Regions from separate parts of the Homo sapiens genome. Here region 1 is linked to region 2. Evidence: fine-mapped expression QTL. Tissue or cell type: hypothalamus. Region 2 holds a variant in brackets; the other region holds the start of a gene. All regions are shown on one strand. Distances are between the middles of the regions.

Region 1 (8,101 bases), 23 kb after region 2:
TACCAGTGCAGCATTCAGAGAGTGATAGAGATGCAGCCGAGAGGGATAAAGGGAAATGGGACCGACTGATGGAAGAGACGGGTTTCCTAGGAACCCTAGCTGTGCTAAGTAGGAGGCAGAAGGCTAAGAGGTGAACAGCCTGGATACTATTGTTAGAAGAAATCAGAACTCTAGCGCACCTTCTGCTGGGGTTAGGGAAGGGCTGATCCTCCTCAAAGCTGGTACCAGGGATGGGTCATCTGATCAACCATTGCTACCGTTAGGAGAAATGTTGGTCAGTCCCTCGGTGCAGACCCTCAGATGAGGGCTAGTGGTGAAAAGCAGTTTAATGACCTTTGGGAAACATGGACAGACAAGCACAAAGATCCTTGTAATTCAAAGGATCACAGTATGGCCTGGGGAACTGGGGAACTAGCTAAGCCATCCCCACAGTGGCCAGGGGCTACAGAGGTCACAGAATAGGCCAGTGAGATAAAGGAGTGAGCAGCAGCTGGGAATGCTAGGAGGAACTTGGAAGAAGTTCTGAGGGCAGATGCTTGAGAAAGGGTCCACAGCCCCATTCACTCCAAACTTTGGTTTGCGGTTTGAACAGGGCCTACCAGAGCTGTGTCCAGAAGAAGCATGAGTAAGGCCCTTACCGAGTTCAGATGAACTTATTCCAGGTTCCCCAATATTTCTATGATGAAGCTAGGGTAATTCCGACCATCACCCACCCCATACACACATACACATACACACACACACACACACACACACACACACACCCCTACACCTACACACATAGGCTGAGGCTGGCCCTGCTAGTAATAGCACTAGGTAGAATAAAAGCCCATTTTTTTTTGAATAGCAAGGCACGTGTGAGTCCTCAACTAAGCCCAAGGAAAAGATCCAAGGATCAGGAGTGGGACCACTAGACCCAAGAGATAACTTCCATTCCTGAAATGAAACCGAAGCAACCAATAAGCACTGTGCAGCCCTGTGCCATGATGGTCCTATGACACTGCCAGCCTCTCCTCAGACAAAACCCATCACCACCATTAGGTCACAGAGCACCCTGTACTTTGGTCCAAAATTGCCAAGGCATTCATTATTAACAGCACTAAAGGCAGCCCTGCCTCCATTTGGGTGTATTGGTACTCTTTTCCAACTTCATTACAATTCTCCCCAAAGCACCTGAACCTGCTTCTGGGCAACAGTGTTTTTATCCACAACTTTCAGCTGTATATGCTCTGTGGCTGTCGGTCACCCTGCTCCCCTCACCAGCCCAATGCTTGCTCAATGGGCACATGAAGAAGCCATGATGGCAGAGGATGGAAGCTAGGAACTTGGCCCAACAGCATAAACTTCCCCTTACCAAAACTGAAAACCTGACTGGCTACTGCCTCTGCCCAGTGTCCAATTTGCCAGCAGCAGTAATCAACACAGAGTGCCTCCACAGCTCCTTCCTTCAAAGGCACTGGCTGGGGATGGATGGATAACTTATATTCGTTATGGGAGGCATGCAACACTGCCCTCACCCTTGGAACTGCTGAGAAAGGGTCTCCAGCCCCATTCACAGCTTCAGTGATCTGTCCATATGAGGAGGAGGCAGAGCTGAAGAGGAATGTACATGGGCCACAACATGTCCCCTCCCCTTCATACCATAACACAGGCGCTCAGAAGATACACTGGCTCACATGCACCCCACACACATGCACGTGTCTACACTTAACAACACACAAGCATGTACACATGCTGCCAGCCTCCCCACAATCCCTCAGTTACACACATACACATAAGTGACCAGACATCTCTGCAGGGGTTGTGACCTTTCACGTGCATTCGTCTCCTTAAGTTTGTACACTGAACCAGGCCCCCAGAGCTCACTGATACCCATTCTCCACCCCCCAGCTGTTCTGTTGGCTGTTATTTCCAAAGACTCCATCAGGCACATCTCCATCCTATCTAGAGTGACACCCACCAGAGGTGGCTACAGACTTGGGCCATGAAGACTACAGTCACTCCATGATGGAGCCATCTTCATGGCACATCCCCTAGACCAGGACACCCCCTCCTCCTCCCACATTCCAACCATTAAAAAATTGGACCTCTCTCTCTTCTGTCCAAGTCACTTCCCCACCGGAGGGTGGCCCTTGGCTGACGCCTGGCAAATAAGGAACAGTTTGTGGATAAAGCACCCTTGTGGGCAGACCGGGGAGAAGGGAGGTTATGCTTTGAGCCTTTCCCCACTTGGGTCTATTTTTCTATTAAGTATACATTGCAGTGGATAAAAAAAAACACACTAGTATGAAATAGGAATTAGGAAACCTTTTTTCTAGCCCCAGCACACTGCCATTCACAAGCTCTCTGACTTTGGACAAATTGCTCCCTCCCTGAGCCTCAGTTTCCCCATCTGTAAAATAGCCTCCGAGTTTCAGCCCTGCTCTAAAAGTATCAGGAATTATTCCTAGGCAAATCAATCTTCTTTGGAACAAGAATCATTACAAGAAGAAAACTCATTATAATGGCAACTAATCCATATTCATCTATTTGCTACATATTATCTTTAAAACTCTTCTTCATGCCGTTTGAATGCATGCCCAATATCTCAAAGGTTTGGGCTATATATTCCCACACTACACTAGGGGCTTCTGGTGTGGGACTGTCTCTCCCCCATCAAACTTTGTGAGCAGGAGCAAAGCCCACAACATTTCCCTGGAAAAGCAAGAGTCAAAGTGGGGTCAGGACAGACACCAGAAAAAATCTTGGAGTCTCTGTGCTAGAAACTGTAAGCCACCTGCTGAGCCTCAAACCCAATTAATTACCACTCTTTTGACCCTGCCAATCCCTGTTGTGTAAGACCTCTCTACTCTCTATTTCTCCCACTTGCTCCCCAATGATCTAGTTCCCCAGGTCCCACCTCTCCTGAATCTCTCCAGCCCACCCCTCCCTGCCGGAACCCCATTCCTGCCTCAATCTTCCCTGCTTCTGCACTCACCAGCCCCTGGGCCAAGGACAGAGAACAGCAACAGCAGCAATAGGGCTGGCGGCAGCTGAAACCCAGACTTGAGTCTAGGCTGGGAGAGGGGCAGAGTATGAGAGATAGGGGGGACTAGAGGGAGAGACTTGGGTAAACACAGAGATGAGGGCAAAGGCTGAGATAATGGGTTGGGCTGGGCTGGACACTGGGGCTTGAACAAGGGCAGGGAGTGGGATGGAAGGAAGGGCTGTGATGGGGACTGCAGCAAGGGACGGGGTTGAGCCAGGGCCTTAAGCAAACACTGGGAATGGGGCTGGGACAGGGCCTGGGCTGGGATTTGTGACAGGGGGTGGAACGAGGGCCGAGGCCGGGATGGGGGCCAGGCCAGGGGCAGAGACTGGAAGGGGGTCCTGGATGGGGACCCAGGCAGGGGCTGGGGCCGATGTGGGAAGCGGGGCGAGGGCGGGGCTGGGGGCCAAGGCGGGGATTGGGATAGGACGAGGGGCCGGGACAAGGGCTGGGCCATGGCCCGGGGCGGGGGCGGGGCCGGACAGGCCAGCGCGGGGCGCTCGCAGAGCTGGCCCGCGGCTCCGCTCCCCACCCCCGGGGGGTGGCCTCCGGTGTCCTCGCGGGCCCGGGGCGGGGGCCGGGGACCTGGGTAGGAGTTCAGGCCTGGGCGACTCCGGGCTGCGCTGAACCGGCGATAACCAGGCCCCGCGGCGGCGGCCTCGACTTGACGTCGGCGTGACGCCCCGCCCCCCGGCCGGCTCGATTGGTCCCTGTCAGTAAAGCCCGCCCCCGCCCTACTCTATTGGTCCCCAACTTAGTCCTGCTGGGCTTCGAGGACACACAGACTCCGCCCCCGCCTCAGCTACCCGAGACCCTGCCTTTCTCACCCCAAGCACAGAGCCCGAGGTCCCCTCAGATCCTCACAGCCCCCAACGACCGCCCCACAGATGTCTCAAAGGAACCCTATCCTCACAATCCCAGACTCCCCCGGACGTACGCACAGATCTCCGCAGATCCTACCCAAACACTCGCTCACAGAGATCCCGCAACACACACCCCACTTTTCAGAAGTAAACCCTCTGGGCTCGCCCCCTCGAGGCCCAATGCAAGCCCCTCAGGAGACCTTACCCACCGGGGAGGTGACCAGACCGCCGTTGCCACGGAGACTACTAGGCGTTCCGGTTGCCCTGGTGACCGGCGCCTACTCTCCTGGCCCGGGTTCCGGAGGCTTCAGTCAAGACCCTCCCTCATTGGCCCTAGACCCCTTGTCCCTACCCACTTCCCCAGGTCATGCCAGAGCTCCTTTGCGAAGTTCTGCAGATATCCAAGTCCCCTTCCCAGATAGCAGACTTTCAGGCAAGGCATTTCAACACTCAGCACCTGCAGCTGAGGCACATCCACAACCAAGAGCCTTTCCTCCCTGAGGATCAACACCTCCCCCTGCCATCCTAAGTCAAGGTCTTGACCTAAGGACTTGTAACAACCAAGCCAAAGCCCAGAGGGTAGGTGGTTTCTCCAACGGCCCTTGCCCTCTTCCCTCAAAGACATCTGTCTTTCTCCCACCCCTCAGTCCCTTCACATTGTTGTAGTAGTAGTAGTAGTAGTAGTAGTAGTAGTAGTAGTAGTAGTAGTTGTTGTTGTTGTTGTTGTTGTTGTTGTTGTTGTTGTTGTTTGAGACAGAGTCTCGCTCTGTCCCCCAGGCTGGAGTGCAGTGGTGCGATCTGGGCTCACTGCAACCTCCGCCTCCCAGGTTCAAGTGATTTGCTTGCTTCAGCCTCCCCAGTAGCTGGGACTACAGGCGCCTGCCACCATGCCCAGCTAATTTTTGTATTTTTAGTAGAGACTGGGTTTCACCATGTTGGCCAGGCTGGTCTCGAACTCCTGACCTCAAGTGATCCACCCGCCTTGGCCTCCCAAATTCTGGGATTACTGGCATGAGCCACCATGCCTGGCCCACATTCTGTACTTTTCATCCTTACTCTCCTCCTCCACCCAATTTCCTCCTCCCCTTCTCTTTCCCCTTCCTCACCTCCCATCTTCTGGTTCTCCACTCTTAGGCCCCTTTTCTCTCTAGCTGACTCTGGTCATCTTCCTCCCTGTAATCCTACCTCTGCCCCTAATTCCCTTCCCAAACATCCCCTTCAAAAAGGCTCTGATGCATTTAAGGAGTGATATATCTAGCGTCTCTGGAACATGGGGGTAAAGTAGGGAGCACGGAAAGTTAAGGCAGGAATCCTCAGGCTGTGTTGAAAATGATGACAGGCCTTGAATGCCAGGGCCAAGAAATTTGGACTTAATCCTTTAGACTGAGTCATGGAATGTTTTTAAGCCACAAAGTGCCAGTTGTTGGGCTTGCACTTTAGAAAGATCCTGATTGGGTCAGGAAGGAGGACTACATCCTTGCAGGATAAATTAGGTATATCCCCCTCCCCACCGTATCCTAGACTCACCCCAGAACAACATCAATTTATTTGTATTGCCATTGTTGGTTAATCGGTCTCTCTCCTAGACTCAACTCAATCTAGAGCTTAGCACAGCGGGTCAGTAAAAGCATCAGATTAGGCTCATTGTAAAAGTATAAGTTACATAAATCCATGAAAGAATGGGTGAATGGATTAAAATGCTGTGGATGGAAGTAGAGGGGCAAAGTTATTACACAAAGGCTGAAGATGATGAGAACTTGAATAAAATTGGAAGGGAGAGGAGAGAATGCATTTGGGGAATATTTAGAAGATAGGAAATAGAGTTATTGGTGCCTATTTGAAGATGGAGTCTAAGGGAAAAGGAAAAGACTAGGATAATTCCCAAAGTTCAGTTTTGCTGTCTGTGGAAACACTCAGTTAGAAATGACCAGCAGGGGCCAAGCACGGTGGCTCACTCCTGTAATCTCAGCACTTTGGGAGGCCAAGCAGGGCAGATCACCTGAGGTCAGGAGTTCAAGACCAGCCTGACCAACATGGTGAAACCCCGTCTCTACTAAAAATATAAAACTTAGCCGGGCATGGTGGCACACGCCTGTAATTCCAGCTACTTGGGAGGCTGAGGCAGGAGAATCACTTGAACCCGGGAGGCGGAGGTTGCAGTGAACCGAGATTGCGCCACTGCACTCCAGTCTGGGCAACAGAGCGAGACTCCATCACAAAAAGAGAAGAGAAGAGAAGGCCAGCAGGCAGGTGGGTATGAGTGTGAAGTACAGAGGTTGAAAAAGGTCTGAGCTAGAAATGTGAATTTAGGAGTCATTGGTACACAACTGGAAGTAGTTAAAGCTTTGAACATGAATGACATCATTAAGGGAGGAGGATGTGTGTGGTGCCTAGACAAAACCAGGCTGCGTGCAGTGTCTTGCCTTATGTGACAGCATTCCCCTGCACTCTCAGGAGCCAACCCCAACTTTGGCTTGGTATTGCCAGTCTCTAGAACTCCATGGTCTGACCTCCAGGGTTTTAAGATATGCCAAGGACCCTGCTCTTGGACTGCCCAAGTGGTGTTGTTCAGACTCCCTCCTGGGACATGGTTCTCTGCTACCATCTACTGATGGGATTCGAACTACTTCAGTCTTTCAATCTTTAAGTTCCAGCTCCCTAACAAGCCACAGCAGCATGCCATATGAGGTCTGGACACATGGGTGAACCTTTTGGCATCACACTCTAGGACCCAGAGTTCATGTTGTTTCCCTCTTATATCTCAGCTGCACTGATATCCTTATCCAAATTCCATAATGCACTGCGAACCCTGGGCTCTGCCCTGACTTGCCGGCCCTCTATTTCCAACCTAATGAAGCCTGTACCCTGTTCTACCACTAGATGGAAGCACATGAGATCATAGAAGAGCCTCATATCACCATGGATGCAGAGAAGCACCCCCCTTCAAAGGACCCCTCTGCTGAGGACTTACAGGAGAACCATATCTCTGAAAGCTTCTTGAAGCCTTCCACCTCTGAGACCCCGTTAGAGCCCCATACCTCTGAATCCCCTTTGGTGCCATCCCCTTCCCAGATCCCCTTAGAGGCCCATTCCCCTGAAACCCATCAGGAGCCTTCCATCTCTGAGACTCCTTCAGAGACCCCTACCTATGAGGCTTCATTGGATAGTCCCATCTCAGTGGTGCCAGAGAAACACCTTACTCTTCCTCCCCAATCACGAGACTATGTCTGTCTGTCTTCTTCTGATACTCTGAAGGAAGACCTCTCCTCTGAGTCTTCTTCCAATGAGGTCCCATGGACAAGGAGGTCTACCCATCTCTCTGAATCTGAGAGCCTTCCAGAACACTGTCTTTCAGGCCCTTCATCCCAGGTCCAAGTGGACACAACCGAAAAGCAGGAGGAAGAAGCAGGAGAGGTTGAAAAGGGAGTAGATGCCAGTGACAGCACTGCTCACACAGCCCAACCTGGACACCAACTAGGCAAGAAGAAGAAGAAGAAAGGAGTTAGCTGTAATTGTACCTGTCCTCTCCCCTGTCCTGTTCTCACTACTATTCACTGTCCTTGACTTGCCCCAGGAGGAGGAGACTGGGTTACTCTTGGACATGGCCCCTTCTCTTAGTTTTAGGGCCTTCTCACTTCCCCCTGGTTACTCATCCTCTCCCATCCTAGGTAACACAGCCCGCCCAGTGTTCCCTGCTAGGCAGACAGAGCTGGTGGAAGTGGCTAAGGCAATGCATAGAGAGGAGTTTGGTGCTCAAGTGAACAATCTTTTCCAGTGGGAGAAGGATGCAGCCCTGAATGCCATCCAGACAGGTGAGCCCATGTGGCCTTTCAGAGGCCTGTGACAGGCCCATGGGCATCCTCTAATCCAAAAGATCTGGGAACCTGAACATTCAGCAGATAGCTTCCCCTTTTGGAAATGGCTATACCACCTGCCTGGAAAAGGAGCAGGCAAGTGGGCCAAGGAATACAAGGGTGGATGCAGACAAAAAGTGGGGAGATTCATATAAAGCCCAGGTAGAGACAGGTAGCTGAACTAAAATTATTAAACACAGAAGGGTCGGCTGGGCGCGGTGGCTCACGCCTGTAATCCCAGCACTTTGGGAGGCCGAGATGGGCGGATCACGAGGTCAGGAGATCGAGACTGTCCTGGGTAACACGATGAAACCCCGTCTCTACTGAAAATACAAAAAATTAGCCGGGCGTGGTGG
Region 2 (8,101 bases):
TAAAAGATTCAGGAGAGGCCAGGCGCGGTGGCTCACAACTGTAATCCCAGCACTTTGGGAGGCCGAGGCGGGTGGATCACCTGAGGCCGGGAGTTTGAGAGCAGCCTGACCAACATGGAGAAACCCCATCTCTACTAAAAATACAAAAATTAGCTGGGCTTGGTGGTGCACACCTCTAATCCCAGCTACTCGGGAGGCTGAGACAGGAGAATCACTTGAACCCGGGAGGCAGAGGTTGCAGTGAGCTGAGATCGCACCATTGCATTCCAGCCTGGGCAACAAGAGCAAAACTCCGTCTCAAAAAAAAAAAGATTCAGGAGAAAACATTAAGTAAGGCTTCCTCACCTCCAATATTAACGAAAGGGGGAAAGAAGAGAGAGGAGGAGAGGATGTAGTGAGAATACTGACACAGAGGGTCCCAAAAGGAAGAGTCCCTGAGCTCCACACCCCAGGCCAAGATAGATTTGCAGTTTTAACAGATGCAGCAACTCATGCCTTGTCTGTCAAAACCCAGAGCAGAAACAGCTTCAAGGTGTGTCTGCATAGCCAAGGCCTTAGACAACTTTACGGGTCTCCACATATGGCCCAGAAGTGGCAGAGAGAACCTTAGGACTGAGAGAGTAATGCAAATGGGAACAAGAAATCTCTCTGCATCCCAGATGAACTGTCTGGACCTCTGACTGGGGACCAGATGGAATGATGGAAATCCCGGGGATGGATGAAGTATGGACACTGGTGATCAGTGAGAATGCTCTCCCAACTTCTTGGCATTATGTAAGACCCTCAGAACTCAGCTATGACCCTCATGGAAAGAGAAGGAATCCCAAATGGACAAATGATCTTTTCTGGCACTCAGGAAAAATGGGGGCTCAAAACAGAAGTTACATTCTTGTGATATTTCTTGCACACCTGAGACGTGTACCTGCTATTCCAATTTCCTGGGACCTCGGCTTCCTTCTGTGTTGGGTGTGGGCATCATAAGGAAAGTCTGTCTCACTGATTTAAATCATCTCAGCATACGTATACATACATAAACACACACACACACACACACACCCCTCAGATACTGCAAATCGGGCTCAATAGGAATTGGGGAATAGGCATTAGAAACTGTTTAGAAATGAATGCAGGGCCCAGATGAGCGGGATCAGACTGTGTACAGGGTGTGACAAAAGCCTCCGGCAGTAGCTCCCATCAGCCCTGCTGATTCCCTGAGGGGCCCTCTTTCCCCACTTCCCCACACCCCTGACCCCAGGGGGAAAAAAGGCATCACAGAACCATTCTGAACCAATCAATCACTGGAGACACACAGACTCCACCTGTATCAAACGAGGATACCAGCCACCCAGACAGCCCCAGTCCCAGCTCCATCCATCCTGCAATCCCTCCTCCACAGCACAGCACAGCCCAGACGCTGCCTCTGGGAAGGAAGCCTGAGGCCAGAGTTGCTGAGCCTCTGGGAAAATCTGGAAATTTGGTTTCCCCAAGATAGACTCCACCTCCTCTGGAAAGATGCTGTGCTCCTGACAGGGCTTTGTCTCCCTGGGAAGGAATCCATGTCTTGGGAAGGCTCTGCATCCCAGGAAAGGCTCCACACCTGCAGGAGGGACTCCTTGGTCCTGAGGGACTCTGTGCCTGCATAGGCTCCAGTCCTTAAGAAGGACTCCATGATGCAGGGGGACTCCAGGCCCTCAGGAAGTTCTCCATGTCCTGGGAAGGGCTCCAGGTCCCTGGAAGAGTTTTGTGTCCTTGAGAAAGACTCCATGTCCTCAAGAAATACAGCCTGTCTCCTTCTAAGAGGGCTCCACACCCCCAGAAAGAACTCTAGGAAGCATTCATATCCCCTCAGGGCCAGGCCCAAAGCCCCTCTCAGCTGGCACAGATGCTGCTGACAGTGGCCCCTCCTGGGCCCACGAGGCCCAGCTCCTCCTGCTCGTTGATGCATAGCTGGTAACCACAGCCCCGGGCCCGGGCTCCAGATGGGACCCCGTGGTCAGTCTTGGCACGAGGGGGCAGCAGGAAGCCCACACTGCCCGCAATGAGCATATGCCAAATGCTGTGAATGTAGAAGTAGTTGTCCCGGGTCTCCACAAAAGCATAAAGCAGGACGGCACTGCCTGCAATAAGGCTGCCAGGGCACAAGTAGAAAAGCCAGCGGCGCCACGTGGGTGGGTAGCAGTGCCGGCGGCGGACGCTGCGTACTGTCTGGGGGAGACAGAGAAGTGGGGCTCAGGAATGCCAAGCCCTGGAACCCAAGCCAGAGCTGGTCACTCTCAGGTTTCCTCTGTATCCTGGTTGTGACCTAAAGACACCTGCCAAGACTGGAGCGGACACTGCCAGCAGCAGGTGATGACGACAGAGCCAAGCCCACCTTAAACTGGGGACCAGATACCTGGGGCCCAGCACCCAAGTCCTGCTGGGACCCTCCCCCCACATCCCTCCCCACCCTTACCCAGGCTGTGGCCAAGATCCCCAGGGCGAAGAGACTGGGTCCAAGCAGGTTCCAGAGTCCATGTCGGTCAAGCTGCAGAGCCATGGACAGCAGCATAGCTCCCAGCAAATACAGCACCTAGAGAAAGAGACTCAAGGGCTGGGCTAGGGCCAGGTGACAGACAGCACTCCAGGGCCTGGGTCAGAATCATGAGAGGCACTTGGAAATGCCCCCAGGGAGAGGTCAGGAGTGGATTTCAAGGAGACTTGGCCATGGTTGTTCCCCAGGGCCCACTCTGGACTGACCTGCTTGACCACGGGCTGTAAACGAGCCATGGCAATGACAGTGACCCACACGGACATTAAGGAGCCCAGGAAATCACAGAACTGCAGCACATCGTAGTCCATGATGCAGAAAACCACGATGCCTGGCTGGTCACAGGCATGATAGAACTGAAGGAAGAAATGACAGGCATTGAGAGAACTTGAGGCAGAGGTCCAGATCTACAAAACCGGAGGGGTGGGCCCAGGGGTGGTGTGCTGCTGTCAGTGCAGCAGAGGTGAAAGGTCACAGATGAGAAGATCTGGGAAATGCCTGACTCCCCAAATCCTGAGAAGAATGTGGTAAGGAGGTCCAGTCTGCTACATAACTAATATGTATCTGGCAGCCCTGACCCTGACCCTGAGCTTCCTAATCTTCCTGCTTCTGGAAGGTGCTGTGGAGAGTGCCCTGCCAGGGGGTTCTGATACCCTCAAGCTGAGGCCAATCCTGTCCCTGTCTCCTCATGCTCACCATGGATCCCACCTATAATCCCCATCCCTGGCCCAAGCTCTAAGCTACCCAGAAACCAAATCTCCCCACTATGTCCCAGTTTCCCCTGCTAGCTCAGACTCTGAACTGGGCTTCACTCTCAGGGCTTCCACCAACTGACCCTCTTCATCCCTTCCCAACAAATGCGGGGAGTGTGTGGCAGGTAAGAAAAAAGGCAGTCCCTAAGGCCATGGAGAGAGGCATGGCACTTCACACCATGGGGAAGAACATGGAGAGGGGACAGTGTCCACCCATCCTACACTCTGGAGAACATAGTGAAGAGTGGACTATTGAGGAGGTTCAAAGGGGATGCAGGGAGCAGAAGTGGAATCGGATCAGACTCAACTGGACATCCTAATTAAGGAACCAAGCAAAGTCTGCCATTAGCTCCCTTGTCTGTAGTTCCAACCCATGTCCAGATTGTCTCTCTGGACAATGCCATGGCTTCCAGCATCCTGTGTTCCCTTATTTGTGAAAAAAGTTTTCTAGGCATAACTCTTTAGTGGCAGAGATGCCACCAAAAAATCTGGAAAACATATTCCAAAGTCAGTCTCTAGAGACAAAAGATGAAAAAGAAATCGCTAATGTTTCCTTTGACCCTACTGAAGATGTCATCCAATCATTTAAACTGCAAAAATTACAACTTCAACAGACAAATTTGGAAAGGAAGAAGCTAGGATCTTAGAAAAAGAAAACAAAATGAAGACGAAAACCTGGGATATAAATTGGCATCAGGAAACTTTGGGTTTGATTCCTTTAAATTTTAAGCTGCAAGACTCAAGCTTGCGTATCTATCTTCTTTCTTTTCCTTCACTTTGGAGGTAAAGAATTTTGCTCCTGCAAAAAGAGACTGCCTAAGGATGAACATGTTTTAAGTGGGTGTTCCAGGCTTTCGAAAGGGCTTGTTATTTTGGGGACATGGTTCCCTCTTAATATACTGTTAAATTGAAAAAGTGAGTTCTCAATGGGAAATTTTCAGACTTTTCATGTAGGTCCATATCAACATTAGAATGAATTTTTTTAGGTTGGGTGCAGTGGCTCACGCCTGTTAATCCCAGCACTTTGGGAGGATGAGGTGGGCAGATCACTTGAGCCCAGGAGTTAAAGACCAGCCTGGGCGACATGGTGAAACCCCCATCTCTACAAAACACACAAAAATTAGCTGGGCACGGTAGCGTGTGCCTATAGTCCCAGCTACTTGGTGGGGAACAGGGAATTGGCGGGGGTGGGGGGCAGAAGGGGCTGAGGTGGGAGGATTGCTTGAGCCCAGGTCAAGACTGCACTGAGCTGTGATCATGCCACTGCACTCTGCCCTGGGTGACAGAACGAGACCCTCAAAAATAAATAAATAAATAAAAATGGTTAAGTAATTAATGTTTGAATACACCTAAGAGACTGGTTTATTTTTCAACTATTT[G/A]TATGTGCTGATTCATTGGGAGTTAATTTAGTTCCTAAACAAATCAATATATTGGTCTTTTTCTATTTTAGCTATAGGAAATTGATTATTCTTTGCCTCCAAGACCAGACATAAGTACTATAGGCCACTAAATTACCCAATACTGTTTTATGACTTGGATTTTATTTTAAAGAACTAATTTTACATCCAGCCTTAACCAAGCACTGGCTCCATATGCTTCACTTTCAAGTATATAGAAAGAAATACCCAGAAGTTTCTGGGAGAGAGATTTGTACTATATTTCAGACAAAGGAAGATATATATCAGCAGAAAAAAGGCAAAGCTGAATCACTAAACATTGAAGACACATCTAGGGGAATAATTGAGGGCTGACTTTCTCCTAGGAATTTGCACTAAAAGAAGAATAAAGAAAAATGGAGATATTATCTCTAGAGTGGAGAGGATTTGAAGAAATCATTTCACTAATATTTTACGACTAATTATTTTCCAGGTATACTAAAAGGTCAAAGAGATTGTTTAAGGTTGTGAAAAATCCACAGGGGTAGAGTTAAATTAAAATTGTAGTGTGAGGGAATTAGTCCACTAAAAACCGTGGACTAATTTTTAGATTGGCATTCCTTTTGTCAACAGCAATAAAAAGAAGTAGAAGTGACATAGAAAAATCAGGGAATTTAAGAAAAAAAAATTAGACTACAAACTGACTTCTATTAATATAATTCTAATCTAAGTTGATAACTTTCTCAGCTTTGGCCATTATTTATGAAGCAATGTAGGGAAATTATCCTGCAAGGTTTTTTTTCTGTGGAATTTTACATTTTTGTAACAGTGCATCTAATGCTCCAAAATGGGCTATCCAGGCACTGCAGAATGTGGACTATAAACGCAAACGTAGTTAATCCATGCCCAGATTGGAATATAATGGAACTTGCTGTTACTCCCTTATTTCCTGTTTTCTGCTTTCATTTTCTCTTGGAAACAGTTATGGGATTTTGCCAAGAGACAGTGAGAATGACCTGGGATGGTCTGAGGGATATAAGGCGTAATGAGAAGGTGGGCTTGTAGCCAGGATGCCAGCAATCAGCAAGGACACCTGCACAGCCCCAGAATGCCAGCTCTGTCTGGGTCTTCTGAGATCTAATTACAAGGATTCAAGGAGCACTGTGATGGATACACAGTTTGAACAGTACGGGTTCAAGTTGCACAATTAAAATGTTTGATATCTTTGTCCTGATGGTTTCTTATATTTGGCTTAGTTGTATTTTCAGATCTCTTGATCGGCTCTTATCTTTTAAGAATTTGGTGAGAACTACTAAACTGGGGCCATGCCTTTTTCTACATACTCCAGGACTTAAGAGAAACTGAAGTTGGGTTAAAAGCATATCAATGCATGCTCACTGCCCTGGTGCAAAGGGAGCAATATCATCTGTTACATGTGAGGGATCTGGAGTCAGGCTCACCCAGATTCTAAGGTAGATACTCACCTTCTACCTCAGGCAAAATATTTAACTTTCCCTTATCTACAAAAAAAGGATGACAAGAATAAAAGCATGTATCAACTATAACAGTACTATTGTGAGGATTAAATTAGCAGTGTCTGAAACAGCACATATTCAGTGTATGTCATTTTGTTGTAATCATTATCTGAATTGTTTGCCTATATACAAAAATCAAATGCTAAGTTTGTGGCCTGTTTTTGTTTTTTCAAAACATATTTTACATCTGTAAACTCCTGAATTATAAACCTACTGTCTGCTCCTATGTTCCAGATAAGAATGGATTACTACTCCCAAGTGTAGACTGTCCTGGATTATTTGAAGACAAGGAAGAGGACTGTTATCTCCTGTCCTAGTACTGACAACTGCAATTTGACCAATGGGTCCTTAAATGGACACTGCTGCAGAATGAAATAAGTCTACGAATGGCAAGGAGGGACCACAGAGAACCTGCAGGGAAAACAGAAAACATAGTTTTATGTTCTGGCCCATGTGGAAAAGAACAGGAGTGAGAGCAGGACTTTAGGCAACAACTCAAAGCCAGTAGCTTTTCCTTATTGCCTTATTTAAGAAAATGTGAGATTTTGGCCCGGCGCAGTGGCTCACACCAGTAATCCCAGCACTTTGGGAGGCCAAGGTGGGTGGTTCACGAGGTCAGGAGATCGAGACCAACTTGGCCAACATGGTGAAATCCTGTCTCTACTAAAAATACAAAAATTAGCTAGGTGTGGTGGCATGCGCCTGTAGTCCCAGCTACTCAGGAGGCTGAGGCAGGAGAATCGCTTGAACCTGGGAGGCGGAGGTTGCAGTGAGCTAAGATCGCGCCACTGCACTCCAGCCTGGGCAACACAGCAAGACTCTGTCTCAAAAAAAAAAAAAAAAAGAAAAAAAACAAAGAAAGAAACCGGGAGCTTTTTATGTGGTGCCAGGCACTTGAGGCTCTCCTAGTACTCCTGCTACAGGGAAGGTCTTTTCAGGCTGACAGCCACTGTATCCAGATAAGGAAGAGTCATCTAGCACTGAACACTCTGGAGCCAATCAGGATACTTGTGTCAAGTCCAGAGAGTGAATATGCTCTCCCTACATGCTTCAGGCTCCTGACACACTTAGGTATTCTTACTAATTATGAATCACATTCGATCTGCATGTAGCCGAGAGTGGGCTGGTAGAACAGCTGTTGCTGGAGGATTTGGTGAGCCACAGTAGAAAGGGCATCTGGCAATACGAAAGAGAAACAGTGTCTAACATAAAAATAGAATGAGGCACTGTGGGGGCAGGCCTAAAAAGGGGCCAATCAAGCAAAACTGGGGTATATGCTTCTCACCCAGCTTAAAGGGCCAAGATCTCTCTCTGCAGCATGGTTGCAGACTCTTCTTCCTCATCTCTGGATGAATCTCCAGGAGGACCCAGGCCCCTCAGTTTCAGCACATTTGCCCCTGCTTTCTCCCAGATGAGAACTATGATTTTTCTAATTTAGACATATGTCTGACCTAGTAATGCAGGATGCCAGGAAGGCCTGTCTTGCTTTCTGTGATATCCTTGCTGACAAGGCCTGAGCAGTCTGAAACCATCTAAGAGTTTTTGCAGTGCTCACATGCATGTCACATGGTGCCAAGAGCCTAGAGATGAGTTGAAAAGATTCCCAGATGTGACACTTCAGGGGTAAAAAGTCTACTTGGGGGTTAAGTAACATTAGCAGGCTCACTTCTCTACCTTTCCTTATAGTTTCTGGACGCTTGCTTATAATGAACTTTTCTGATTATGGAGGAGTGAGGAAAACACAGGAAAGAGATTGTGGCAATTCTGCAATGGGAATGGAGGGGTTTTAAACTATATTAATCTTCATCAAAATGCACTCCTTTGAGCTGGGATGTGATATGACACTGCCACTTCCGACAATGCCTCAGGACATAGTTGAGTCTGTAAAGCTTCTCAGGACTCTGAGAGTCA

Evidence for each region. PIP is the estimated chance that this variant, and not a neighbour inherited with it, causes the effect.
Region 1: it holds the start of TMEM8B, and the variant in region 2 is fine-mapped to the expression of TMEM8B in hypothalamus (GTEx, PIP 0.99). The same link has a PIP of 0.9 or more in spinal cord.

Annotation. Positions count from the first base shown.
Region 1 is chr9:35,824,832-35,832,932 of GRCh38, reverse strand. TMEM8B (transmembrane protein 8B) reads right to left here and starts at 3,705. Exons shown (of 13, transcript NM_001042590.4): 1 at 2,978-3,705. The coding sequence starts at 3,485. It overlaps FAM221B (family with sequence similarity 221 member B), which reads left to right and starts at 4,201. Exons shown (of 7, transcript NM_001012446.4): 1 at 4,201-4,470; 2 at 6,772-7,369; 3 at 7,560-7,703. The coding sequence starts at 6,772. RefSeq lists enhancers at 2,613-3,113, 6,477-6,836 and a silencer at 3,399-3,848.
Region 2 is chr9:35,847,609-35,855,709 of GRCh38, reverse strand. TMEM8B (transmembrane protein 8B) reads right to left here. Exons shown (of 13, transcript NM_001042590.4): 11 at 2,737-2,883; 12 at 2,453-2,569; 13 at 1-2,205. The coding sequence ends at 1,870. Among named protein-coding and RNA genes, the nearest start is that of OR13J1, 19 kb to the left of the region's middle. RefSeq lists enhancers at 7,116-7,235, 7,266-7,335, 7,526-7,665. The variant G/A (reference allele first, on the strand shown) is at 4,659.